Homo sapiens: one gene and its partners. The protein of the gene in region 2 interacts with the protein of the main gene of each other region in a pairwise test. Each region holds a gene or a part of one and is shown on either strand. Other genes may lie near its edges.

Region 1 (7,000 bases), on a different chromosome or scaffold from region 2:
ATCTCTCCTGCACTAGCTGTCAGCTCCAGGAAACAGGCTATATATATCATTGGCCACAGCATACCCAGCACTGGCTAACTGTTAATCCCCCAGTACAGTAAGTACCCGTGGAGGGAACGAGTGAAGTATATACAACATCCTGAGGAGACGTCATTAACTCTAGGGACAGACAAGATGAGGATTCAAAGGGGAAATGATAGCCCAGCTGGGTTTTGAAAGATGAAAAAGAGTCCTCCACTGAACAGGGAAAAGTTGAAAGCTTTTCATCTAAAATGTGGGATAAAACAAAGATGCCCACTTTTACCACTTATATCCAACGTAATACCGGAAGTCCTAGCCAGAGCAATTAGGCAAGAGAGAGAAATAAAAGGCATCCAAATTGGAAAGAAGGAAGTTAAATTGTCCCTGTTTGCAGATGTCATAATCCTATATATAGAAAACCCTAAAGCCTCCACTAAAAAACTGGTAGGAATAATAAATTCAGTAAAGTTGCAGGATACAAAATCAACATACAAAAGTCAGTAGTCTTTCTATATACTAATAGCAAACTATCTAAAAAAGAAATCTGGAAAACAATCCCATTGACAATAGCTACGAAAAATAAAATAAAATAAAATACCTGAGAATAAATTTAACCAAGGAGGTAAAAACCAGGAGTGGTGGCTCATGCCTGTAATTCCAGCTACTCAGGAGGCTGAGGTGGGAGGATTGCTTGAGCCCAATAGTTTGAAACCAGCCTGGGCAACATAGCAAGACTCTATCTCTTAAAATGTTTTTTTCAGTGCACACAAGGGTAGATAAATAATTTAATTTTTTTCTTTTTTTTTTTTTTTTTTGAGATGGAATCTTTCTCTGTCACTCAGGCTGGAGTGCAGTGGCATGATCTCGGCTCACTGCAACCTCCGCCTCCCGGGTTCAAGCAATTCTCCTGCCTCAGCCTCCTCAGTAGCTGGGATTACAGGTGCGCACCACCATACCTGACTAATTTTTGTATTTTTAGTAGAGATGGGATTTCACCATGTTGACCAGGCTGGTCTCGAACTCCTGACCTTGTGATCTGCCTGCCTTGGCCTCCCAAAGTGCTGGGATTACAAGCGTGAGCCACCATGCCTGGCCTAAGTATAAAAATTTTTTTTAATTTTTTTAAATAAAAAATCTGCCAGGTGTGGTGGCACATGCCTGTAGTCTCAGCTACTTGGGAGGCTGAGGCAGGAGTATCATTTGAGCCCAGGAATTCATAGCCACAGTGAGCTATGATCAGACCACTGCGCTCCAACCTGGGCAACAGAGGGAAACACTGTCTCTTAAAAAATAAATAAAGGAGATGAAAGATCTCTACAGTGAAGACCAGATGCGATGGCTCACGTCTGTAATCCCAGCATTTTGGGAGGCCAAGGTGGGCGGATCACCCAAGGTCAGGAGTTCGAGACGAGCCTTGCCAACAATGGTGAAGCCCTGTCTCTACTAAAAATACAAAAATTAGCCAGGCATGGTGGCACACACCTGTAATCCCAGCTACTCGGGGGACTGAGGGAGAAGAATCACTTGAACCCAGGAGGCAGAGGTTGCAGTGAGCCAAGATCATGCCACTGCACTCCAGCCTGGGCTACACAGTGAGACTCTGTCTCAAAAAAAAAAAACTCTACAATGAAAACTATAAATCATTAATGAAAGAAATTGAAGAAGATATAAATGAAAAGATCCCATGTTCATGGATCAGAAGAATTATGGTGACAATGTCCATACTACTCAAAGTGATCTACAGATTCAATGCAATCCCTATCAAAGTGCCAATGACATTCTTCACAGAAACAGAAAAAACAAGCCTAAAATTCATATGGAACCACAAAAGACCCCAAATAGCCAAAGCAATCTTGAGCAAAAAGAACAGAGCCAAAGGCATCATACTGTACTACCTGATTTCGAAATATACTACAAAGCTACATTAACCAAAACAGTATGGTAGTGGTATAAAAACAGACAGACATATAGACCAATGGAACAGAATAGAGAGCTCCAAAATAAATCTACACATTTACAGCCAACTGATTTTCAACAAAGGTGCCAGAACACACATTGGGGAAGGGACAGTCTATTCAACAATTGATGTTGGGAAAACTGGAAACCCACATGTAGAAAAATGAAATCAATCCCTTATCTCTCACTGTATAAAAAAATCAGGCCAGGTGCAGTGGCTCACACCTGTAATCTCAGCACTTTGGGAGACTGAGGCGGGTGGATCACCTGAGGTCAGGAGTTCGAGACTAAGCTGGCCAACATGGTGAAATCCCATCTCAACTAAAAATACAAAAGTTAGTTAGGCGTGGTGGCATGTGCCTGTCATCCCAGCTACTTGGGAGGCTGAGGCAGCAGGAGAATCACTTGAACCTGGGAGGCGGAGGTTGCAGTGAGCCGAGATCATGCCACTGCACTCCAACCTAGGCGACAGAGTGAGACTCCATCTCAAAAAAAAATAAAAAATAAAAAATAAAAATGAGTTAAAGACTTAAATGTACGACCCCCAAACTACAAAATTACTAGAAGAAAACATAAGGGAAACACTTCATGACGTTGTGCTAGGTAAGAATTTTTTGGATAGGGTCTCAAAAGCACAGGCAACAAAAGCAAAAATAGATGTGATTTCTTTATACCAAAACACTTCTGCACAGCAAAGGAACCAATCAACAGAGTTAAGAGACAACCTACAGAATGGGAGAAAATATTTACAAACTATATATCTGACAAGGGGTTAACATCCAAAATATACAAAGAAGTAAAACAACTCAATAGAAAAAAAAATTAAAATGGGCAAAAGACCTGAATAGGCATTTCTCAAAGGAAGCTATACAAATGTCCACCAGGTATATGAAAAAAATGCTCAACATCACTAATCATCATGGAAATGCAAATCAAAACCACAATGAAATAGCATCTCATACCTGTCAGAATAGCTACTATCAAAAAACCAGAGCCAGACGTGGTGGCTCACGCCTGTAATCCCAGCACTTTGGGAGGCCAAGGCAGGTGGATCATGAGGTTATGAGTTCGAGACCAGGCTGACCAACATGGTGAAACCCCATCTTTACTGAAAATACAAAAAATTAGCCAGGCATGGTGTCGCAATGTCTGTAATCCCAGCTATTTGGGAGGCTGAGGCAGGAGAATCACTTGAACCCGGGAGGCGGAGGTTGCAGTGAGCCAAGGTCGTGCCACTACACTCCAGCCTGGGCGACAGAGTGAGACTCCGTCTCAAAACAAACAAACAAACAAACAAAACCAGAAGACAATATGTGTTGGCAAGGATTTGGGGAAAAGGCAACCTTTTGACACTGTTCATGGGAATGTAAATTGGTACAGCCATTATGGAAAACAGTATGGAGGTTCCTCAAAAAATTAAAAATAGAATTACCATATGATCCAGCAGTCCCACTACTGGGTATATAGCCAAAGGAAATGAAATCAGTATATTGAAGAGATACCTCTACTCCCGTGTTTATTGCAGCACTCTTCACAATAGCCAAGACATGGAACCAACTAAGTGTCCACCAGTGGATGAATGGATTTTTTTAATGTGGTATAAAGCTGGGTGTGGTGGCTCAAACCTGCAATCCCAACAGCCAAGGGGAGAGGATAGTTTGAGGCCAGGAGTTCAAGACCAGCCTGGTCAACATAGAGAGAACCCATCTCTACAAAAACTTAAAAAAAAAATTAGCTGGGCACAGTGGTGCATACCTCTAATTCCCAGCTACTCAGGTGGCTGAGGCAGGAGGCTTGCTTGAGCCCAGGAGCTCGAGGCTGCAGTAAGCCATAATTGCACCACTGTATTCCAGCCTGGGTGACAAAGCAGGACTCCATCTCAAAAAAAAAAAAAAAAAATATATATATATATATATACACACACACACACACACACACACACACACACACACACACACACTATGGAATACTATTCAGCCATAAAAATAAAATAAAATCCTGCCATTTGCAACTACATGGATGAACCTGGAGTATGTTATGGTGGAGTTTTTTTTTTTGTTTTCTTTTGTTTTTGTTTTTGTGTGTGACAGGGTCTGGCTCTGTTGCCCAGGCTGAAATGCAATAACTTCAGCTCACAGCAACCTTCACCTCCCAGGCTCAAGCCATCCTCCCACCTCAGCCTCCCAACTAGCTGGGACTAGAGGCGCGTGCTACCACACCTGGCAATTTTTGTGGTTTTTGTAGAGATCGGGTTTTGCCATGTTGCCCAGGCTGGCCTCGAAGTCCTGAGCTCAAGCGATCCGCCCATCTCAGCCTCCCGAAGTACTGGGATTATGGGCACGAGCCACCTCCCCCAGAGTATGTTATATTAAGTGAAATAAGGGCCAGGCACAGAAAGACAAATACTACATGACCTCACTCAGACATCAATCTTAAAAAGTTGATTTCATGGAAATAGAGTATAATGCTGCTTATCAGAGGCAGGGGTTGTTGGGGGGATGGAGAGATCTTAGTCAGAGGATGCATAATTACACTTAGGAGGAATAAATTTCAAGAGATCTATTATACAGTAAGGTGATATGGTTAATGACAATATATTGTATTCTTGAAAAATGCAGAGTAGATGTTCTGCACTATCACCAAAAAAATGAAAACTATGTGAGGTAATGTATCTGTTAATTAGATTTAGTCATAACATAATGTATACGTACTTCAAAACATCATTTGTACATGATAAAAACATAGAATATTACCTGTCCATTTTTTTTTTTTAATGTTTTTTTGAGACAGAGTCTTGTTCGGTCACCCAGGCTGGAGTGCAGTGGCGCGATCTCGGCTCACTGCAACCTCCACCTCCCAGGTTCAACTGGGCACATCCAGCTTATTTTTGTATTTTTAATAGAGACACAGTTTCTCCATGTTGGTCAGGCTGGTCTCAAACTCCTGACCTCAAGTAATCCACCGACCTCGGCCTCCCAAAGTGTTGGGATTATAGGTATGAGCCACCATGCCTGGCCCATTAAAAAAAAATTTTTTAATGAGGTAATCATTCCCTTATGCTATGCATATTAAAATAAAATTTTGGAGAGCAAAAAAAGAGTCCTCCAGATAAATTAAGAACACTGGCCGGGCATGGTGGTTCACGCCTGTAATCCCAGCACTTTGGGAGGCCTAGGCGGGTGGCTCACCTGAGGTCGGAAGTTCGAGACCAGCCTGACCAACATGGAGAAACCCCATCTCTACTAAAAATGCAAAATTAGCCAGGCATGGTGGCACATGCCTGTAATCCCAGCTACTTGGGAGGCTGAGGCAGGAGAATCGCTTGAACCTGGGAGGCAGAGGTTGCGGTGAGCCAAAATAGCACCACTGCACTCCAGCCTGGGCAACAAGAGCGAAACTCCGTCTCAAAAAAAAAAAAAACAAAACAAAAACAAACAACAACAACAACAACAACACTAAGAGTGGGCCGGGCATGGTGGCTCATGCCTGTAATCCCAGCATTTTGGGAGGCCAAGGCAGGCAGAACACCTGAGGTCAGGAGTTCAAGACCAGCCTGGCCAACATGGTGAAACCCCGTCTCTACTAAAAATAGAAAAAATTAGCCGATGGCACGCACCTGTAGTCCCAGCTACTCAGGAGGCCGAGAAATGAGAATCGCTTGAACCAGAGAGGTGGAGGTTGCAGTTAGCTGAGATGGCACCACTGTACTCCAGCACTCCAGCCTGGGAGACAGAGTGAGACTCTGCCTCAAAAACAAACAAACAAAAAAAACACTAAGAGTGTCTGCCCATGGCTGAGGCTGGGGGTTCACATATGGCTCCTGAACAGGCTGATGCTACATGTTCAAGTCTCACCTCTTCCTCCAGGAAGCCTTCTAGGACCACCTCAGCCTGCTTCTGAGCACCTGTGGTCACTCATTCATTCAGCAGTTTTGGGACTCCTCGTATATGATAGGCCCATCATTTTATGTCTAAGGTCTCCCCACCTCCAACACAGAGTAGGGTCCTCAAGAGAGACGGGACCCTGCCTCTCACTGTCAGGATCAACTTCATGGTGGCAGACAAACCCTTCACAAACATTCAGAGCCCCAGGATGTCCAGGCTGGTGGGGACCTCAGGGATCACCCAGCACCCTAAGGCCTAGAGAGAGGAACCCCTGGCCAAAGGTCACACCGTGAACCGTGGGGTGAACATCCAACTGTTGTGCCTGAACCTCCCCACACTCTGGGTTAGACCCCTTATGAAGCTGAGAGGTTGTGGGGAGCCCTCCAGCTGTCCTCAGGTTCAAGGTAAAACAGTAGGATTGCATTGTGTGGTTGGAGGCTAATACAAAAATTAGCTGGGTGTGGTGGTGGGCACCTGTAATCCCAGCTACTCCGGAGGCTGAGGCAGGAGAATTCCTTGAATCCAGGAGGCAGAGGCTGCAGTGAGCCAAGATTACACCACCGCACTCCTGGGTGACAGAATGAGACTCCATCTCAAAACAAAAACAAAAACAAAAACAAAAACAAAAACAAAACAAAACAAAAACAAAAACAAAACAAAAACAGCCAGCCCCATCACCATTTCTGGAGTAAAAAAAGCTTCTGAGCCCCACTGAGAGCTGACCTGGGCCAGGCTAGACCTGAGGCTGGGCAGAGGTTCCCAGGCTTCCCAGGACCCTTGCCCACCTCCTACGAGGGCACCAGTGGGTCCCTGCTAGCCCAGAAATGTGAGACTCAGTGCCCAGTGTAGACTGACATCTTGGAAAGGGAAAGAAGAGCTCTCCACGGGGAGAGGCAAGGATTGAAGCGGGACAGGGAGACCTTTCCCGCACCACCACACTGCACTCAGCAGTTCTCCCAGCCCCGAGCGTGGCAGCAGGCTGACCACTTCATTCAGTCGCCCACTCACTTGCTGGGTACCCAGGGGCGAGTAGGGACCAGAGCCCTTGAACTCCAATGCTGACTCTGTCTACAGTGCCACAGGACACTGAAAATGGCCCCCAACCATGCAAAGTGGGGCTTGTGGATTATCTGAGACCC
Region 2 (7,442 bases):
AATAAGCATTTCCTTGAAAATGTTTAAAAAAAAAAAGTCAGCAGTAAAATGTATGGCATTAAGAAATAGAGAAAGAGTGTAAGATGGTCAATATTTGGTTTCCTAAATGCTTTTACTCTGTGCTTTAAGAAAATGAAAGATAAATAACCATATATGTCTGGCTTACTTAAGAATGTAGAATTAAATCATAATAAATTAGACCTCATGCTGACACACTCATTCTCCAAGTGTTAATTGAGCATCTGCTCTTGGAAGGATCCATGCTAATACTGGGAGGGCTAAGAAAAAGAAGACCTAGCAACTGACCTTAAAATTATAAGGTCGAGAAGCAGCTATCATCTAAGGAAAATGGTGATATACACTCTAAGACCAAAAGGATACATGATAAGAAGGGAGGGAGGTGGTTCCACATGAGAACAGTCAAGTATGAATTATCTAATCAAGGCGGTGTTGGGCCTAAGGAAAGTGCAGGTCCCTCAATGGGAGTTAATCTAAGTGAGGCTCCATGGTGGGCTGGATGAGGCTGTGGGAATGGCGAGCAGGGGCCAGGCTCTTAGAAGTTGCCTCTCACGCAGTGGCGGGCGCCTGTAGTCCCAGCTACTCGGGAGGCTGAGGCAGGAGAATGGCGTGAACCTGGGAGGCAGAGCTTGCAGTGAGCCGAGATTGTGCCACTGCAGTCCGGCCTGGGCTAAAGAGCGGGATTCCGTCTCAAAAGAAAAAAAAAAAGAAGTTGCCTCTCAGAGGTGCGAGACAAAGCTTGGAATAGGAAACAGTTCTTAACAGTTACTTTGGGATCATGGATAAATCAGGGAGAATCTGGGGTAGGAATGTGTCCTGTGCTCTTGTCCCAGTACAAATAAACACAGCACACACTAGGTGTTTTGTGCACATCATCTCCAGCCAGTTTCTGAGAAATAAGGGTAATACCCTCAAGGGACGGGGGAGGCCCAGAAGCCACTGTGCTGGTACTCTTTGCCCTGGGCTGGGGGATCCAGAGCCTGTTCCATTAAAAGCGCATTCAATTAGGTTACCTCATTTGTGATTTGGCAAACTCTAGGCAAGGTCTAGATTTTGAGAGGTGGTTAAATGAATCAAAATAAAAGTGGTTTAGATGGAAGGATAGCTGAGAGAGAGGGAAGTTTTTGGTCCTTGAAACTCATTTTAGAATCTGTGTTGCATCTACTGAGGAAGTCTACCTCATACTAATATTGAATGATCTATCAAGTAATGAGGAAATATTATTTAGTTTTCCTTTCTAGGTAGCACTTTGTCTGATAGGGCTTTCTTTGTCTTAGAATATGGTATAATCTCTGACATCTCCTGCATTGAAAAATAAGTCCCAGTGTAGTAGATTGCAACGTCAGGGTACAAATTAATCATAATAAGAACTGGCACTATTATATGTCTCAATACATCTCAAGCACTTTACATACATTGTATACATTTTACCAGTCCTACAAAACAGAGCTTATCAAACCCACTTCACAGATAAAAAGCCTGAAGCCCACAGTCTATTAATATGTCCAATTTCACATGGCTGGTAAGTGACAGGACTGGGACAAGACCCCCAGTCTGAATTAGTGTAAAGCACACTCTGTTCCATGCCTCCCAACCTGAGACTGACTGTGTCCCCTTATTCACTTTTCTTCTCACTACTCCCAAACGTATATCAAGTGATGAAAAGATTCTGTACCCAATCTGCTGGACTGAAATACAGAACCAGAGCAAGGAAATTACCAAAATGGTCAAGAGGTGTGAATTAAGGAGAGAAAGATAATATTTGGTGACAATAAGATTACACATGCAAAGTCAGATAAACTCAAAAGATCATGGGGTCACATTCTGTCATTCTGGACTGTCCCCCTTTTTATAGGAAGTTAAATCTTTTCCAAGAGAAATACATAAGAGGGTAGTAAAGAGAAGAAATAGATCAATGTTTTTTTTTTTTTTTTTTTTTTCTCTGACAGTATGACTTCTATCCTCGGGCTTCTGCCTTGTGTTACAGCTTCCCTATCTTATATCACTCCTGGGACAGGGATGCATTGTCTGCAAGATTTATTATAGGGAAACTGATCAAGAATTTTTAGGGATGCGGCATTTCCCAGGAAGTCATTAACTAAGGGACAAGAGCCAAGATAAAGACCTTCATATAGGAGGACTCAGCAGAACAACATGCCAGACAGAGTTCTTAGCCTGAGCATCTCCTCACTTATTCTTCAAGGTTCTCAGGGACTTGTGAGTTCCTGCATCTCGGGTCAGTAGAGGGAGGAGTGCCATTCTCTGACACATACCAAGTTGAGGACCCTGAATGAAGAATGAGGGAAGCACTCACCCAAATAGCCTTAACAGGATGTGGCTGAACCTGATTTCTACTCCGGAGGTCTTAAGAAGGTAAAGACCATGATCTGAGGCTGGCTGACTCAGGTCCATAGAGGAAGGATTCCTAATGTGTGCCAGGAGTAAAGTGAGTACCCTGAAGAGTGCAGGAACCACCAAACCCCTATCAGTGGGGATCCCACAGAATCCTCCCTATTGTCACCTCTGAGAGATTTAGGCATGAATGTCAGAAAGAGGCACCCTCATATCCTCAGTAGTAACAGAGAAGTGAAGGTCTTGTTCTGAGGTGGGCAATCCCAGCTCAGCAAAGGGAGGAATATTAAGCCTTCCTGTGAGTGAGATTTAGGATCCTGAGTTAGGACCTGAGTAGGACAATCCACCATAAGACCTCAACCTGTCTACCACAGCTGCCACTCTTGGGAGACCATGGTCAGCTGTGGCCAGATAAGGCCACCCTCTTCCTCCTATCTGATCTCAGGGAGGTGCAGGCCTTTTAAATGGAGAGGTCTTCAGGTCAAAAAAGAGGGGAGCCCTAGGATCTGCTAGGAGCCAAATCAAGGAAACCGAGTGAGAACTGAGGGGACTGCTCACCTCTGAATAGAGAGAGCAACAGAGTCCACCCCCCTGCATAACTCTTAAATTGCCAGGGCAACATGTAAGGCTGAGGACTCACCATCACTTTTTTTTTTTAATAATTGACCTTCTTTTTTAGAATAGTTTTACGTTCACAGCAAAACTGAGCAGAAAGGAGAGTCTCACAGGCATCCTGTCCTCCCACAGACACAGCCTCCTTCATATCAACCTCCCAAGCCAGGGTGATACATTTGTTACAATTGAGAATACATGGACACATCATTATCACCCAATGTCCGTAGTTTAGGATTCATTCCTGTTGCTGCACATTCTGTGGTTTTAATATTTAAAAATGTATAATGACATATGTTTACCACCATAGAATCATCCAGAATTGTTTTACTGCCTTAAAAGTTCTCTGTGCCTGATCTATTTATCTCTCACTCTCCCCAACCTTTGGAAACCACTGAACTTTGTACTGTTTCCATACTTTTGCCTTTTCCAGAATGTCATATAGATGGAATTATGCAATGTATAGACTTTTCAAATTGGCTTCTTTCACTTTGTAATATGTATCTAAGTTTCATCCATGTCTCTTTGTGGCTTGATAGTTCATTCCCTTTTAGTGCTGAATAATATTTTATTCTGTTAATTTATCCACTCTCCTTCTGAAGGACATATTGCTTGCTTCCCAGTTTGGGCAATTATGAATAAAGCTACTATAAACATTTGTGTGCAGGTTTTTTTTGTGGACATACCGTTTTCAACTCATCTGGCTAAATAACAAGGAGCGCACTTGCTAGATCATATGATGAAAGTATGCATAGCTTTGTAAGAAACTTACAAACTGTCTTCAAAAGTGGCTGTATCATTTTTCATGTCCATCAGCAATGACAGTGTGCTCCTGTTGCTCCACATCCTCATCAGTATTTGGGGTTATCAGGGTTTTTGATTTTGACCATTCTTATAGGTATGTAGTGGTATCACATTATTGTTTTAATTTGCAAGTCTCTAATGATATGTGATGTTGACCATCATTTCATGTACGTATTTGCCTTCCATATATATTATTTGTTGAGGTGCCTGTTTAGATCTTTTGTCCATTTTTAATAGGGTTGGTCAGTTCTTATTGTTCAGTTTTAAGACATTTTTGTATGTTTTGGTTAACAGTCCCTTATCAGATATGTCTTTTGAAAATAATTTTTTCCCAACCTGGGAGTTATCTTATTCTCTTTGTGGTATCTTTAGCAGAGCAGAAGTTTTAATTTAGCGAAGTCCAGATTATCAATTATTTTCTTTCATAGATGCCCATCACATTTTATACCAGAACTAGAAAAGATGAAATTCTTGGTCTGAAGTTGCAGTTATCAGTCAGCAGAAGAGACAGTCCACAACCCTGCTTGGAGTCCAGATGAGGATCCTGAGTGCAAACTTGGGACCTAAAGAGCCCAGGACAGAGAGAGCACTAAATGCTTCTAGGCAGGGGTGGTGGGTTGAGGGGCCCCTAGACTTCCCTCATCTGGGTCCCAGAAAACTAAAGAGTCAATTTCACAACACCAATAGAGGGAGGCTCAGGCCCTGCCAAGAGCTGACATGACAATTCTAAAGGTAATCAGAGTGGATCCTCTCCAAGCCAGAACACAGAAAGCCCCACTGCGAGCCTTGTTGTCACCCAGTCAGCCCCAGGCAGGGTTGGCAAGCTGCAGCCTAAGGCACATTGTAACTTCCTCAGCTGGCTTCTCAGGGGACAGAATGACTAAGAACAATAGCCCAGTGAATACTTAGAGCAGTGTTCTCAAGGAATCCTGCAGAGGCGGCTTCTGAAAAGCCAAGGTAGTATCTGCCTGCTGAAGGTGTTCTCAGGATTTCATTTGCTCTTCTCCAGGAACCACATCACCTGCCCTTCTGCCTACACTCCTGCCTGCTGTGCCTAACCACAGCCATCATGCCTCGGGGTCAGAAGAGTAAGCTCCGTGCCCGTGAGAAACGCCAGCGGACCCGTGGTCAGACCCAGGATCTCAAGGTTGGTCAGCCTACTGCAGCAGAGAAAGAAGAGTCTCCTTCCTCTTCCTCATCTGTTTTGAGGGATACTGCCTCCAGCTCCCTTGCTTTTGGCATTCCCCAGGAGCCTCAGAGAGAGCCACCCACCACCTCTGCTGCTGCAGCTATGTCATGCACTGGATCTGATAAAGGCGACGAGAGCCAAGATGAGGAAAATGCAAGTTCCTCCCAGGCCTCAACATCCACTGAGAGATCACTCAAAGATTCTCTAACCAGGAAGACGAAGATGTTAGTGCAGTTCCTGCTGTACAAGTATAAAATGAAAGAGCCCACTACAAAGGCAGAAATGCTGAAGATCATCAGCAAAAAGTACAAGGAGCACTTCCCTGAGATCTTCAGGAAAGTCTCTCAGCGCACGGAGCTGGTCTTTGGCCTTGCCTTGAAGGAGGTCAACCCCACCACTCACTCCTACATCCTCGTCAGCATGCTAGGCCCCAACGATGGAAACCAGAGCAGTGCCTGGACCCTTCCAAGGAATGGGCTTCTGATGCCTCTACTGAGTGTGATCTTCTTAAATGGCAACTGTGCCCGTGAAGAGGAAATCTGGGAATTCCTGAATATGCTGGGGATCTATGATGGAAAGAGGCACCTTATCTTTGGGGAACCCCGAAAGCTCATCACCCAAGATCTGGTACAGGAAAAATATCTGGAATACCAGCAGGTGCCCAACAGTGATCCCCCACGCTATCAATTCCTGTGGGGTCCAAGAGCTCATGCAGAAACCAGCAAGATGAAAGTCCTGGAGTTTTTGGCCAAGGTGAATGACACCACCCCCAATAACTTCCCACTGCTTTATGAAGAGGCTTTGAGAGATGAAGAAGAGAGAGCTGGAGCCCGGCCCAGAGTTGCAGCCAGGCGTGGCACTACAGCCATGACTAGTGCGTATTCCAGGGCCACATCCAGTAGCTCTTCCCAACCCATGTGAGATCTAAGGCAAATTGTTCACTTTGTGGTTGAAAGACCTGCTGCTTTCTCTGTTCCTGTGATGCATGAATAACTCATTGATTTATCTCTTTGTTGTATTTTCCATGATGTTTCTTAAAATAGAAAGTTTATTTAGATTCAGAATATAAATTTAGAAATGGCATGCATCACACATTTATTGCTGTTTATCAGGTTGGTTTAGTGATAATAATTTTGTTTTTGAAATACAAATAGAAAATCCTGAAATAATTTTTGTGATACAGAGCAAAATAACACGGCATGGGAGTAAGGTTATCCTTAGAAATTTAAAATAACTCCACAGTAAAATAGGTAGAATCTGAAGATAGAAAGGGAAGAAAAGTAAAAGTTGCTTTATTCGTGGTTTGTCTTACTCAGTTCAGTCTTTTTTTGCTCATAAATTTAAAAGTTACATACCTGGTTTGCTTAGATTATTCAAGAATGTGGAGGCCTGGGCCAAGGTCAATGACAGTGTCTCCATTGTCTTCCCTCCATTAAGAGAAGACTTTAAGAGATGAGGGAGAGAGAGCCAGAGACAGTGTTGCAACTGGGCCTGGCATGTTTCAGTGTGGTGTCCAGCAGTGTCTCCCACTCCTTGTGAAGTCTGAGGTATATTCTTTACTTTTGATTAAGAAAACACTTAACCTTCTAATTAATGGAGAGCCAAAGGGGAGTTGGTGGGAACACCATGTATAACATATTTGTATGTAAAATGATTTATCTTTTCTTTTTCCTGTTTTTCAGTGTTCTTTTTTTAAATTGTAGATTTATTTAGTTTCAGAATCTAAGTTTATGAATGGCATGAATCACTCATTTATTAAAATATATCAGGTTGGAGAGTGAGAATTTTTGCATTATGTAAAACAATTTAAAAATCTTTTAAGTCTTTTTCTGTGATCTAGAACAAGATAATATGGCATTGGAATATGGAATTTGTGAAAAGGAAATTACCTTGCAATAAAGTTGGTGGGACCAGGAAGTAGAGAAAAAAAAAGTAAAATGTGGTCAATTCTTGCTTTGTTTTATTCTTTTTAGTCTTTCTTTGTAAAACTGAAGTATATGTACCCGGATCTGCTTAGCTTTTTCAGGAATGTGGGGGAAATTAAATAGCAATACATTTGACTTCCTGGTCACTTACACTTCAATTGTCCAAATATTAATTGAGCAGCTGTACTTTGGAGGGCTCCTGGCTAGTACCGGATAAGCTAAGAAAACAAAAAACAAACAAACAACAAAAAAACCCCAATCCCTGCCCACAGAATTTTAGAATCCAACAGCAGCTATCATATAACGAAGGTAATGAGATACTCCTTAAGACCTAAAGACAGGTGAAAAGGGGATAAAAAAGAAGGTGGGGGTATTACCAGCAGTGGAATCTAGTGTAAATGTCCTAAGCAAGGTAACTGAGACTTCGGGAAACTGAACATACTGCAATAGGAGGTAATTTTATGTCCTGGCATAGTGCCTATATGGGGCGCACTGAGCAGGGGTCACACACTCAGATGGTGGATCTCACACTTGAGAGATGG
Region 3 (7,923 bases), on a different chromosome or scaffold from region 2:
TGGTAATCTTTTCATGAAAGAGTCATATCAGCTTATATATATATTCCAGTGATTGGTGATGTAGGGGGTGGCTATCAGATCCTTTCCTGAAAATAAATTTGGCTATGAGTGGGGAATAGGATTTTAAAGATAGCATATTTTAATTATGTTTTAAAATCAATTTCGCATTCACAAGTTACATATGAATAGATTATACTTGTGTAAAAAAAAAAACAATTTCCCTCAATAACTACCTGATCTCAATGTATTTCATGCCAGTTCTGAGATTTCCTGAGATAAAGACCCACTGTTCTCAGTTCGTGTGTGTGTATATGTGTATCTGTAAATTATATGTATTATTTGATGCATGTGTATACATTAAAAAAATAAGTATATCATATTGAACCTATAGTTCTATAATGGTTTTATATTTCCCCCTAAGCATGTTAGTATATGTGGTATATTTTTGTTAGTATAGATAAATGGCATATCTTACTTTGGCTAAACCACTGGTCACTTAATGTATTGATAATAAACTTTTTCATTATTAAAAACAATGCTGCAATTAATATCTCTGATACATAATAGCTCCCTGGGCACATTATGTTAGAAAGTCAGACACAGAGAAGAGGTTTTAGGTATATTTGTATATTTAGTTTACTGCCTCTTCCACTACACTGAAAGTTGGTTAGGAATGAGAAGTCTTACAGCGCTCTGTAGTCCCAGAATCTTGCACGGTGCCTGGGACTTTATATAGGCATAAAATGCATTTGTGGGGTAAATTAATAGTGTGGTCATTATTATAATAAAGGAATACTTGGATTGAGATAGGAGCACAAAAACAGGGCCTTTTTAAGGAGATCCTGATAATAGCTTTTCTTTGATTTCTAAGACATACAAATTTGATTTAAATGTTTAAGATAAAATACCAATAATAACTATCATTTATTGAGCACTTGCTAAGTGCCAGACTGTATACTAGGTACTTTGCATGTATTATTTCATACATATTTATCAGAGCAAGTTCATTGAATAAGCAGTATTACCTCCAGCTTACAGGTAGAAGAACTGAGGCCCAGTGAGATAAATAACTTGTCTGAAGTCACGTGGTTAATAAATGTCAATGTTATGATTCAAGGATTCCATTGAATCCTAGAGGACCTTGCTCTTAGGAATTAGATATGGCAAGTGCAGAAATGGACGCTGGAGGATGGTACAGAGCTTTTAAAGGTAGAGAAGTTTCCCCAGCAGATCTGAACAAATTCAGGCAGTTTTGTGTAGCTAAAAACTACATAATGAATGAGCCACTCTGTATACCCTGTGAATGCCCATATGTATAGCTCTTGAATGAATGTGGTGTGAGAAGGTTGAATCAAGTGTTCTTCTCAACAGGGACCAGTAATCTAGATGGAAAGAGGACACCCAAATTTATTACCTGGTTTCTAGACCCACTTTTGCCATTAACCTAATATATTGCTTTATTCAAACCTGGGGACTCTGTCTCCATACCTTTGAATGGGCCAGTATTATTCACCCTCAAAAAAGAATTGTGACACTTAACTATGTTATATCATTGAGTATCAGAGCTGGAAGGATTCTGAGAGATCATAACCCAAGCTGATCATTGCCTAATGAGGAATGTGAGGCCAGAGAGGTTAGATAACTCATCACAGCCACACAGAGGCAGACTAAGATTTAGAGCCCAGGATTCCTTAGTCCTAAGCTTTTCCCCGACCCCACTTCACTACGGAGTTTTTGAAAAGAATGAAGCACTTCACTTTGCTACTGTAAGGGAAGGTTATTGAATCTCCCTGATGCTATTCTCCAAACTATTCATAAACCCAACTGACACCTCTGTGTTTTTCTCTAGTCGTTATGCAGGAGAGGTTCATGTCACAAATCACTTTTTGTTTTAACCTGTTTCACAATTATTTTTGAACCTGTATTATTTCCCTACTGGAACGCTGAACTTCTCGAGGTCAAGGACTATGTTTTATTTACCTTCTCCCCCAGCCCTCACCCCATCCCAACCCCATCCCAGGCCCCAGTGCCTAAAACTTGGAGAGCAACTTTAGGTTCTGCTCAAGTCTAACCTGAAGATGGGCAGCCCGAATCATTTCTTCCTTGGAAGTCCACCTTCTTGCTCGCTACAGTTCCTGATATATGTCCCTGGACTCCATTTGTTGGTCGCATTTGATTTTAATTCAGCAGAAGCTAGTGATCTCCGATGGGAAGGTGAGAAGGAGAGACATCTGGGGACCATCAGCAACAGGATCCGTGGCTTGAGGCTTAGCACCCTGGGGCCTAATGTCAGACATTGGTTTCAGGTCTTCAGTGTCTGACTGAAGAAGGCAGTTTCTACCCCGCTTAGGGGCCCACAGGCAGGTCTCCTTTGGGGGTCAGGATTACTGGGAATACTAATTAATTCATTAGTGGGGTTGATGGATTATCAGGCTGTCTCCTGGCAAAGGGTCCTTGGGGGAGGGGGGGAACAGATTGCTGCTCATAAATCTGCCTGTTGCCTCCCCTCTCTCTGCTTCAATGGCTCCCGGGCGTTAGGCCTGTGGGCCAGCAACTGAGTACTGGTCTCCTTTTCCCCACTCAGCAGATGGTTCTTACAGGTTAGCTCAGAGCTTTATAAAAAGCAGCAGAGAAAGAAGGAAGGGCTGGGGATTGGCCCTCTGGCCCAGGAACCATGTGGGGGGAGGAGAATGCATGCAAATGCCTTGTATTCTCCTTTCCTAGGGCAGTCACCACCCCTTTTCCTTTGCTGACAGCACACACCCCTCCTGCCCCTTCCTGCCCTCTCAAAGTTGAACAGCCAACTGTACAACTGTCAATGAGTTGTGACGAGGGTGACCCTGATGAAATAGATTCAACCCATCCCTCTGCAAAAAGCAGCTCTTAAAGAAAATTTGGCATTCACAACTCCCTCCCCATTCTTCAGGGGTGTGCACGTTCATGTACGCTTGTGTATGTGTGTGTGTGCACTCACATACACACACACACACGAATGTATTTTGAAGGCTAATCCTATTGTGTCCAGTCCCTTACATCTGTCAGAGAAAGCAAGGAATCCTGCAGAATGTTTTATCCCCACCCTCATCTTTGTCTCAATATGTTCACCTTTCTGCTAATCTGCTATTACTCCCTGCCCCTGAAAATTTCACAGGCATCAGTGCCATCAACTTCTAAATATCCATGGACAGGGCTTTGAAGACACAAAGCAGGAGATCAATTCATTCAGTAAGCGCTCATTGAACAATGATTAAGCACCTCTATCCTAGACATAAATTACCTCATAGATAAATTTCCTGTGGCCGAGGAGTGAATTCTGATTTGTTTTTTAGAGATCTGCTATTCCCATCATGTGTTGTTTAATTATTCTGAAAATGAAGTTTATTTTCCTGAGCAGATATTTTTCTGGATAGGGATACAAATAAAGATAAGTAAGAGATTAAAGAGCTGCTGAAAATAAATAACTTCCCATGAAAACTGAAAAAAGTGTTAATTTTTATTTTCTTGTTTTCTGTGAAAAACAAGAGTCATATGACACATATCAGAATTAAAAATAACTATTTTCAAACTTAAGATACTCTTTTCAACTTTATGAGCAGTGAAACTATCTTTTGTTTCAGCCCTCTACAGTTTTCCTTGCACACAGGCATATTAATAGTTTTTCATTTCTGTTTGACGCATGTGCTAGTTATGTTGTTAGACCACGCGATTCTCAAAAAGCTGGGGATACTCTGGTTTCTTTTCAGATTGTATAAATGTTTTGCCTTTTGCCAAAACGCCTGAGGAATTATCCTTCAAGTCAATTTCTAAAAGAAGTTGAACTTGGATTCGTAACTCTATCAGGCTACTGATGGAAAAACTCATTTTACAGATATGAAAACTGATGCCCAGAGTGAAGTTGACTTATTCAAGATCATTCAGCCAATTGCTTAATCTGAGCACCTTTCTTTTTCCTTCTTGGAAACACAAGATGATTAGAAAATCTTTGGTATCTTAAGTTCACAATCATTTATTTTTCCTTGGTGTAGTTTTAAATAAGATAGTATGAATATCTATATACTTAAATTATTCCAGATGTAGTTTTCTTTCTGTCTTCTAGCAATTTAATTCAACCTCCTAATACCAAAGGAGTTTTAGGAATTATTATGAGCCTTCTCTTCTTCTAAGCTTATTACTACTCAGGTGGACTTTTTCTACGTGAATGCTTAATGATGTATTTTTGAAAAACAATAGTAGATCTCAGTTTGTAACTCAAGGAACTAACTGCCCTTAAAATGAAGGATTTTATTAATTTCCTTTTTGTTTTTATAAATTTAAAGTGATCAGAAAGTTGAAAGAATAGCACAACAAATATAGCTTCACCTAAATTCACAAATTAAAAGTTTTAATGAGAGTAGCTTTGACGTGCTGAAAAGGTGGGAGAGACATACTTCTTCCTTCTACTTTTAGAACGCTGAAGTTTATAAGCCAAAGACCCCAGTCCACATGTGTAAGGAAGCAGCCACTGATGCTGTGTCCTTGACACGCATCTTTCTCACCTTTTGATTCTTTTCAGACGTGGGTCAGCAGCGTCATCTGCCCTTTTTAGCTCTCTCTCCAAGTCTATCCCCAATTTTCTTTCTCCATTCTGTCCACACTACTCCGCTCCCATTTCTTATCTTTTTAATCACAAAGGTTTCCAGTCCTCTTTTTCTTTACTCCTTAACTTCAGCAACTCTCCTCCCCTGCTCCCCTTCCACCAACCCCCATCTCTATTTAAACAAACAAACGGGCGGCAAAACTGGACCTGGCCGGAGGAGCCTTTCAAGTGGGCGTGTCTTTCGGCTGGGGAAAAGGGAGGAGTTAGACTCTGGGCAACATCACTCCTCCCTGGTCAGCTGGGAGAGCAATCAAAACTGCAGCAAGTCAGAGGCTCCGGCCAGAGAGCAGGAGCTGCCCAGAGGCTTGTGGTCCTGAAAGCTCCTCTCCGGGGAGCTAACCAGGGAGAGGAGGTACTGAAGAGCGACTAAACTGGCTGCAGCGGAGAGATCAGCCCGAAGGCGTCCTTGAGGAGCATACGGAACTCCAAGGAAGGAGTAGAATAAGGAGCAGGCAGAGAAACCAGACCCGGTGGAATCTCTAAGAGGTAACAACCGGGTTTGACATGGATCGCTGAAAGCGTCTCTTCTACCATCTGGATGGTCAGGGAGACTTGGCTTCTCTGACTGTCCTCTAAGACGCAGATTCACAGAGTTCACTCCAGGAACGGCCAGTGACCGAGGTGAGCCAGTGGTTGGGGTGGTAAGGGGGCTAAAGTTTCTGTGGGAAGTTCCCACTCACCTAGAGGAGCAGTTGGGGTGAGGAAAGTCTCTTCTGGGTAAGGCAGGAGGAAGTGAGATTTAGGAAACTTGGAATGTAGAAGCTAGTGAGTTGGAACACTTAGGGACAAATATAAACATTTTAAATAATTTTATTAAATTTTATAGCACTTGCCACCCAAAGTGAAACACATAGACACTCACAATCATTTTAATAAAGTGAAGAATACAGATGATCTCCCCCAATTCCTGTCAAAGCCACTCTTTCATTTTGTTAGTGGTGAAAATGTCGAAAAGTTTAACTGCTTTTCCAAGGTGGCCCAGCAAGTAGGTTGGAAGAATTGACCCAATCCACCACTCTGCTCACAGCATTTTAGGGCTATGCAAGGACGGAGGGGGAGGCAGGGAAAGGAAAACAGAATGAGGAATCAGAGAAGATTGTGGAAAATCCTCGGGGTAGATTCTCACCATTAACTATTTTGTTTACTAAAAATGCTTGAATAGTTGGCACAGGGTGGGGGAAATTTCCTTTTCCTCAGCTCTTTCAGATGGGAAATTAGAAGAAAAAGATTGTCCAAGTATATTTTTCCTTTCTCTGCTTCACACTCATCATTTGCCCGCAAAAAAAGTATACTCAGAAAATACTAATTAAATGTAAAATACCCACCCCCATTTTTTTGACAGAGGAAGCAGAGGTGAAATGCTGAAGAACATGCAGGGAAAAATAAGGGACTGAATAACTTCTGTTAACTATTAAGATCTGAGGCAATGGCACCTGAAGTATTACATGGCTTTGCTGGACAAAATGTGTGTGTATGTGCATGCATGTACATACATGTGCACATATATTAATAAAGGGGAAAATAGTAGAGTAGAAAAGAAGAGCATAGAGCAAACTACTGGCTTTTTCCAAGCAGTACAACTTGTGAACATCCTGATTTGGATTCTGTCTTTTTAGTGCCAAGACTGTGCAACTCTGGGAAAAGAATTTAGTCTATTTAGTTCTTAGATTTCCTAGAAACTGGGCTGGACAGCCCCCTTTCTGTTGTATTTAGTCATCGGATCAGGAGGTAAAGAGATTATCACCAGCTTTTAAGAGGAAAGACACCATCTAACTACCACAAATCCACATGTGAGTTCCCCTTACCTATTAATTAGTTGAAATATCTCCACAATAAATAAAAAATTTGTAAAAGTGTAGAAAGAATTCCAGGATAGCTTCACATAGTAGTAATGCTTAACGACTTTGGCCCTAGTAGTAAAAATATTCAGTAGTAACAATCATTGCCTAAGCAAACACTTTGCTAGAACAGATTTAAAATTTTTAAAAATATGAGAAATATTTTGAATTAAAGAGAATTGGCCAAACTTGAAATTTCACTGAAAGACCCTATAGAACGAGGAAAATTCTGTTATATTGTGTAGGTATAAAAGAAAATCCAAATACCAAATGGCTAAAAATGGACTTTATAAGACCAGAATGTGTTTATGTGTATGTGTAGGGAAGGGCCAGATTCTGCCCCTTGAGCCAGTATTCATTGATTTTTGTCATGTTCGAGCCTATTTCCTATGTAATTTGTGAGCTAATTTCTTTCCTAGGAATTGAGGCAACCTTAAGATGGTATATCATGATGCTTTGTGAGATAGTGCTACAGACTTTCTCAAACAGCTTCTGTAAAACAATTGCCAACCCTCACATTGGCATAACAATTTTACAAAGTACTTGTGCTTGCATTATCTCCTTATTTTTCATGAAAACTTCTAAATGATGTAGCAAAGACAATCTTATTTTCATTTTGCCCTAAGGGTACAAAAATTACAATAATTACAATAATTTTTCTGTGCTCCTTTAATGAGTGAATGATGAAACAGTCTTGGTTCCATGCTTCTTTCAGTACACCTGTGAGATGGTTCCTTAACAGGCTGAAAGCAACATTAGATTTAGGCACCTGTTCTGGAGACAACCCTTGGTTTCTTTGATCACAACTTTTGTTGTGATCAGTATGTGTGATCACAGTACACATATTTTCAACACTCAAATTTAAAACTAGATGTTTCTATTTTTTTCCTGTTAACCTTTTTGATGCATTGAAAATATTTAGGTGAAAAAAGTCAGATAAACATTTTTCTTTATATTTCAGGAGTCTTGGCTTTCACTGCTTTCACTTCTCTCTGATAGACACTGCATATTATCCTCAGAGCTCTGCCATTTGGTTTTGGTGGGAAAAATTGTATTCGCAATACAGAAGGTTCATGAATCTGAAAATGTATGTGATTGAATAGGAGTGTCAAGCTAACTGTTTTCTCCCAATTATAAAACAGAGTGAAAGTTTGGGAGCTAACTTCCATCTTGAATATGATGGAAGAGTTCTAGTCAACTCAGTGGAGGCAGTTGATAGGGCTTGGTTTCCTTACCTCTTGCTACAGAACAGAAACTTTGATTTCAGTTTCAATAGGAGACTGGAGGAGTAGGTGTATTGGGGAATTTTTTCAAATAGATGTTGAAATGAAGCCATTGGCTTTTGTTGATGCAAAATCAATATTAATAACAGATTCTAATTATACCTATTCTTGTCCAAGTGGCCAGAAAAATTCATGGTGATGTTTAGGAGAACAATACCTAAAACTT
Region 4 (5,762 bases), 7.7 Mb from region 2:
AATGAAATCCAGCAGGCCATCATTTCTTTTTTGCATTTTTCATGATGGTTTCTCCTTCACTCTTCAATCTCCATGTAAAGCCCCTGTCCCATGAACTTCATGCCAGCCAGTGTGCCCCTCTCCACCCACCCCTGTGGCCACCGCCCTCTGACTTCAGACCTTTGCTATCCTGAATAAAGCCTCCTGCACCTCAGTCAGAGTCTGCAGCTCCACCTCAGGCCCCAGCATCAGGCTGGGAATTCAACAAGCCTCAGAGGCCCCCAGCCAACTCCCTGGCCTCACAAGGCCTTCCTGTTCAGAGACAATGAGGAAGTCTCGGTGTCTTTATCCCAGCCAGTTCCTCCCCACAGGGCCGGCGCCCTCACTGTCACCATTGGAAACTGCCCCCTCTAAATCACTGATTCAAACACCACACTGGCCACCCCTTCCCCGCCTTCAGCTCTCTGGGGATAGCTTCCCCTGGATGTCTTACAGACACCTACAACCCAAAGCGACAGAAACTGAGAGGAGTCAGAAACATACTCATGGATTTACATCCTTTAATAGCACTTGTTGATGACAACAGCAGATATTCCTCAGCTGTGACACATTTTTGCCCTGGCTAAGCCTGTGAGGTTCCCTTCAAGGCTCTGGGACCCAGTCTTCAGTCATTCTTCCTGGATTTGGGCATCTCATCAAACAAAAAGCGAGTCACATCACTCTCAGCGCTGTGGGGCTCACGGTTGTTGTCCACTTCTCTCTCCCTATCTTGTGAAGTGTTGCGCATACTGCCATTGTTGCTGGCCTCCAAGCCTACCCGCTCCATGATGTAGTCAGCAAGGCAATCGAGCAAGGTAAGGAGGGTATTTATTGTGGAGGAACTCTGGCTTTGGACGTCTCGTTCATCTTGCACAACGCGGTCCACGAAGCTCCTAGGGACCTGTAGCTCATTTCTAGAAGGGTCTTGAGTCTGGTTGTTATTTGTAGACGAGTTCTTACAGTTCTTTTTCTCTGACATGATGTTTGCTGGGTTTGGCTCTCATCAGCTCTGCTTGATTCTCTAGCTCAAGTAGGTCTCTGAGGACACTAGTGCTTAGTCCTGCCTATTGTATCCCTCTGCTCCAGGCCCTTATTGGTCAGGGAGCTAGCTGCCTTTGTGACATCCCTAGACTTTGTGATTTCATTGGTGTCCACTGGTCCCTTATCAGACCTCAGCCTAGAAATGTCTATGACACTGATCTAGTCACGCTAATGACTGAACCTTGATTTTGAGGGAACTATAACTCTCTACCTGATTTTGACATTATAAAAATAAATGTGTGCTTCAGTGGAAAACTTTGCTCTGTCTTTAGGACACCACTGCAGGTTATCTGATTCCAGCCTTACATTATCTGTGAAGTCTTTTATAGCCTTTTGTTAGTTGTAGGCTGCTGATACATGTACAGCATATTCTTTAGTAGAGGTTCGGTTGTTCTTCACCTTATGAAACCAGTTTTGCCTCCATTTACACAATCATTTAATATTACTGATGAATATTCCCATATCAACTCTTTGGTTTCCCTTTTGAAGCAGTCATAACATCTTTTTCTTTTAGCATGTGTTCATTTCATATCTGTATGAGTGTCATGATTTTACCCCATTTGAAAAATATATTTTAGTCATTTTTCAATTAATAATAAGATGCTCAGCCGGGCGCAGTGGCTCACTCCTGTAATCCCAGCACTGTGGGAGGCAGAGGTGGGTGGATCACAAGGTCAGGAGATCGAGACCACAGTTAAACCCCGTCTCTACTAAAAATAAAAATAAAAATAAAAATAATTAGCCGGGCGTGGTGGCGGGCGCCTGTAGTCCCAGCTACTTGGGAGGCTGAGGCCAGAGAATGGTGTGAACCCGGGAAGTGGAGTTTGCAGTGAGCCGAGATCGTGCCACCACACTCCAGCCTGGGAGACAGAGCGGGACTCGGTCTCAAAAATAATAATAATAATAAGATGTTCAATAAGTTTACCTGTCAGTGCCAGGTAAACAGTTGATAGAGAAGTGCATCTTGTGCTCAGTTTAAGCCCAGATGTGTATTTCTTGTCCCTCCTAGGTGAAGCCAAAGCACTAAGAGATGTTTCTTTTCTATTATTTAATTTTCTTCTCTACTAATTCTGTGTTTTCCCTTTGACTTTGGTTCATTTACAGCCAATAACTTTGCCATTCCACAAGGGAAAAAGTGGAAAGAAAAAGGAGTCTCAAATCCAAGCATTTTCAAAATCCAACCATTAGGTTTCAAGGCCTGAGAATATTCTAAGGCTTGAGACTCCTCCCTTTGATGACTCTGATCCTATGACTTCACCTGGGGTCATAAATCTGCCCTCTGGCCTCTAGGTTCTGCCCTCAGTCATTGTTCCTTTATTTTGAATGGTAGCATATGTTTACAGCTGAGTAGTTTTATCAGCCTGCTTCCTCCTGTCAAATTTTGAGAGTCCTGTAGACTTCTTTCATTTCTTCCTCTATTTGTCCCTTTCAGTCTAAGCTGGCATTGTTTCTGCTGATATAACATTGTCAAAAACTTACAGGCCTTTTATGTATGTCATGGGGATTCATGCCATTAGACAAGAGGCTTCTTCAAGATCCCTCATAGAAAATCCCATCTCTATTCCTTGCTTATTCTGAGAAGCACACCCCATATCTCTTCAAAACACCATCTATGTGATTGAATACTTTGATCTTTTGATCCCTTAAAGGCACTAACAAAAGGATGTCTAGCCACGCCCTTGATTTTATCTCTGGAGGATGATTTTGTGGCAATGAATTTCCTAATTTTGGTGTCTTTTGCAATCTGGATAGGCTGAAAATTTCTCATATCATTGAATTCTGGTTTCTTTTTGCTTAACAGTTCTTCCCTCAATTTATGTCTTTCCTCTGGCATTTTACTATAAACAGCAATAAAAAACAGGCCATTCCTTTAATCCTTTGCATGAAAATCTGCTCAGCTAAATATTCAAGTTCATTGCTTACAAGTCCTGCTTTCCACATAATTGTAGAGCACAATTCAGGTAGGATTTCTGATGCTATATAACACAAACTCCCTTTTCTGATATTATGTTACTAATTTCTTTCTAAGCATTCACCAGCAACACCTTTGACATTTTATTTCTATCAATAGTTTGTTTATGATAATTTAGGTGTTCTCTAAGACAATATAGACTTTCTCTACTGTGTTCCTCATGTCTGAGCTCTCACCAGGAACACTTTGAACATTCATATTTCTATTAATGATCTGTTCAACATAATCTAAGGTTGTTATATAATGCTCCTGAAAATTATTCCAGTCTATAGCTATTATCCAGTTGCAAAGCCACTTCCACATTTTTAGATATTTCTTATAGCAGCAACCCACTTCCAGGGACCAAACATTGTGATAGATCCCTATGGCTGCTCTAATGAATTGCCATAAATTTGGTAGCTTTAAAATACACGCATTTAGTATCTTACAAACCTGGAGGTCAGAAGTTCAAAATCAGTTTCACTAGGCTGAAAATAAGGTGTCAACATTGCCATACTCCCTCTGGGGACTCTAGAGGAGGGTCTGTTTCCTTGACTTTCCCAGCTCCTAGAGCTGCATTCCTTATCTCATGGGCCCCTTCCTTCCTATTTACAGCCAGCAGCATAGCATTTTTCTTCAGTAGTCACATTTCCTTCTTCTGTGTCAAATTCGCCTCTGCCTCACTCTTTTATGAACTTGTGTGATTGACCTTAGGTTCTATCAGATAATACAGAATAATCTCCCATCTTCCACAATCATCTTTGTGAATTCTCTTTTTCCATATAAGGCAACATTCATAAGTGCAAGGGGTTAGGATCTAAGTATCTTTGGGGACCATTACTCGGCCTATCACAGGAGTTATTCCCAGGAAACTCTGGCAGGGAAGAGAGGAATTGAGACAGAGAAGGAAAGGAAGCAAACAAAGTATTCGTTATCAAGCAGCTAATGTCACTGTAAAACTTTAGAGAACGCTGTAGTAAACACATCTTCCAGGGGCAGATGATGTCCCACTGTTCTGGACTGTCATATTATTGAGCACAGTGGGCTCTGATGACCTAATGAAAGGTCTCACACAAAGAAATAAGGGTTCTGACATTTGAAAGTCAGGCAAATATCTACTTAAATGGTATGAGCTGTTGGAGTATGGACAGGGCACTGACAGCATCTTCTATACCCAGAAATGTTTGTATACCCTCCTAATAAAGCCTTTCCTTTTCTTCTTACCTCATGCCTGCTGTTTCATCCTTTCATGTAGCTACCTGGCATCAGACACTGAGGTTGATGCTGGATATTCAATGTTAAGCAAACTAGGCATTATCTATCTCATCCTTATGAAACATCCAGTCTAGTAGGAAAGACAGATGTTAAAACAAACACCCAAACAAATATGTATTTCAAATTTATTGTGCATGATCAAAAGCAGAGTTTATAAACTTTAGCACTATTGACATTTTGGACTGAATAATTCTTTGTTTTGTGGCATAAAGGCTGTTCCTGGTAAAAAAGGACAGCAGTACCTTGGCCCCTATCCACTAGATAGTAGCATCTTCCAGTTGTGATGTCAAAAAGTAGCCAGAGGACAAAATTATTCTCAATTGATAATCACTTATTCACATTTAAAATGTTATTTTAAATGTTATTTTAAGGATGTAATTTACATAGGGTTATGGAGGAATGTTGAAATGACACTGAACCTTAGAACTGTCACAAGAATAAGGAATGAGTCAGAGAAGTGGTAAGATAAATAACATTCCATGGACAAATCCCCAGACTAGTAAAGTATTTGGCATGTTTTAAATGAAAGCTAGTAAGTATGCTGAACCTGAGTGCAAAAAATGAGAGTGTAAATGATGAGTTAATGGGTGCAGCACACCAACATGGCGCATGTATACATATGTAACAAACCTGCATGTTGTGCACATGTACCCTAGAACTTAAAGTATAATAATAAAAAAAGATTTAAAACTCTTATGAGTTATAATAGTAATAGAAACCTGCTTACTGCTCCCTTGTTTGCTACCTGTACTTCTTCAAATGATAAAAAGCTTCATCACTACCTTAGTTCACCAAAATGCTTCAGCACAAGTGTACTATATGAATCACTATTGATCTGTCTTGCAAGAAGACATGGGTAGTGAGAATAAAAGTGAGAACTTCCACTATTGAATGAGGTTCTCAAAGCGGGGGAATAAGGGAGGAGACCACCCCTCATATTGTCTTATGCCCAATTTCTGCCTCCAAAGAAAGAAGAAGTAAAAACTAAAAGGCAGAAATGAAATCCACAAGCAGACAGCCCGGTGCCACACCCTGGGCCTGGTAGTTAAAGATCGACCCCTGACCTAATCGGTTATGTTATCTAAAGATTACAGACATTGCATAGAAAAGCACTGTGAAAATCCCTGTCCTGTTCTGTTCTGTTCTAATTACCGGTACATGCAGCCCCAAGTCACATACCCCGTGCTTGGTCAGTCAATCACGACCCTCTCATGTGGACCCCCTTAGAGTCATGAGCCCTTAAAAGGGACAGGAATTTCTCACTCGGGGAGCTCAGTTGTTGGAGACGTGAGTCTTGCCGAAGCTCCTGGCTGAATAAAGCCCTTCCTTCTTTAAAAAAAAAAAATAGTGTCCTTTGAAACACAAAAGTTTTTATTTTGATAAAAATAAAGTGCGATTTATCTATTCTTTTCATTTGATGCCTGTGTTTTTTCACATATAAGAATCGATTGCCCAAAAAGAGGTCATGAAGATTTTT

The links.
Region 1: the proteins of MAGEB4 (region 2) and ACOT11 interact in binary tests that used the Homo sapiens proteins (3 or more experiments, as listed by UniProt).
Region 3: the proteins of MAGEB4 (region 2) and NEUROD4 interact in binary tests that used the Homo sapiens proteins (3 or more experiments, as listed by UniProt).
Region 4: the proteins of MAGEB4 (region 2) and H2AP interact in binary tests that used the Homo sapiens proteins (3 or more experiments, as listed by UniProt).

What each region holds. Positions count from the first base shown.
Region 1 is NC_000001.11:54,551,228-54,558,227, reverse strand, and holds part of ACOT11 (acyl-coenzyme A thioesterase 11), read right to left. Parts: intron 1-7,000. UniProt on the Homo sapiens protein: Has an acyl-CoA thioesterase activity with a preference for the long chain fatty acyl-CoA thioesters hexadecanoyl-CoA/palmitoyl-CoA and tetradecanoyl-CoA/myristoyl-CoA which are the main substrates in the mitochondrial beta-oxidation pathway.
Region 2 is NC_000023.11:30,237,281-30,244,722, forward strand, and holds MAGEB4 (melanoma-associated antigen B4), read left to right. Parts: upstream 1-4,719; 5' UTR 4,720-4,855; coding exon 4,856-5,896; 3' UTR 5,897-6,907; downstream 6,908-7,442.
Region 3 is NC_000012.12:55,015,057-55,022,979, forward strand, and holds the start of NEUROD4 (neurogenic differentiation factor 4), read left to right. Parts: upstream 1-4,917; 5' UTR 4,918-5,257; intron 5,258-7,923. UniProt on the Homo sapiens protein: Probably acts as a transcriptional activator. Mediates neuronal differentiation. Required for the regulation of amacrine cell fate specification in the retina.
Region 4 is NC_000023.11:37,986,075-37,991,836, reverse strand, and holds H2AP (huntingtin-interacting protein M), read right to left. Parts: upstream 1,059-5,762; 5' UTR 998-1,058; coding exon 644-997; 3' UTR 523-643; downstream 1-522.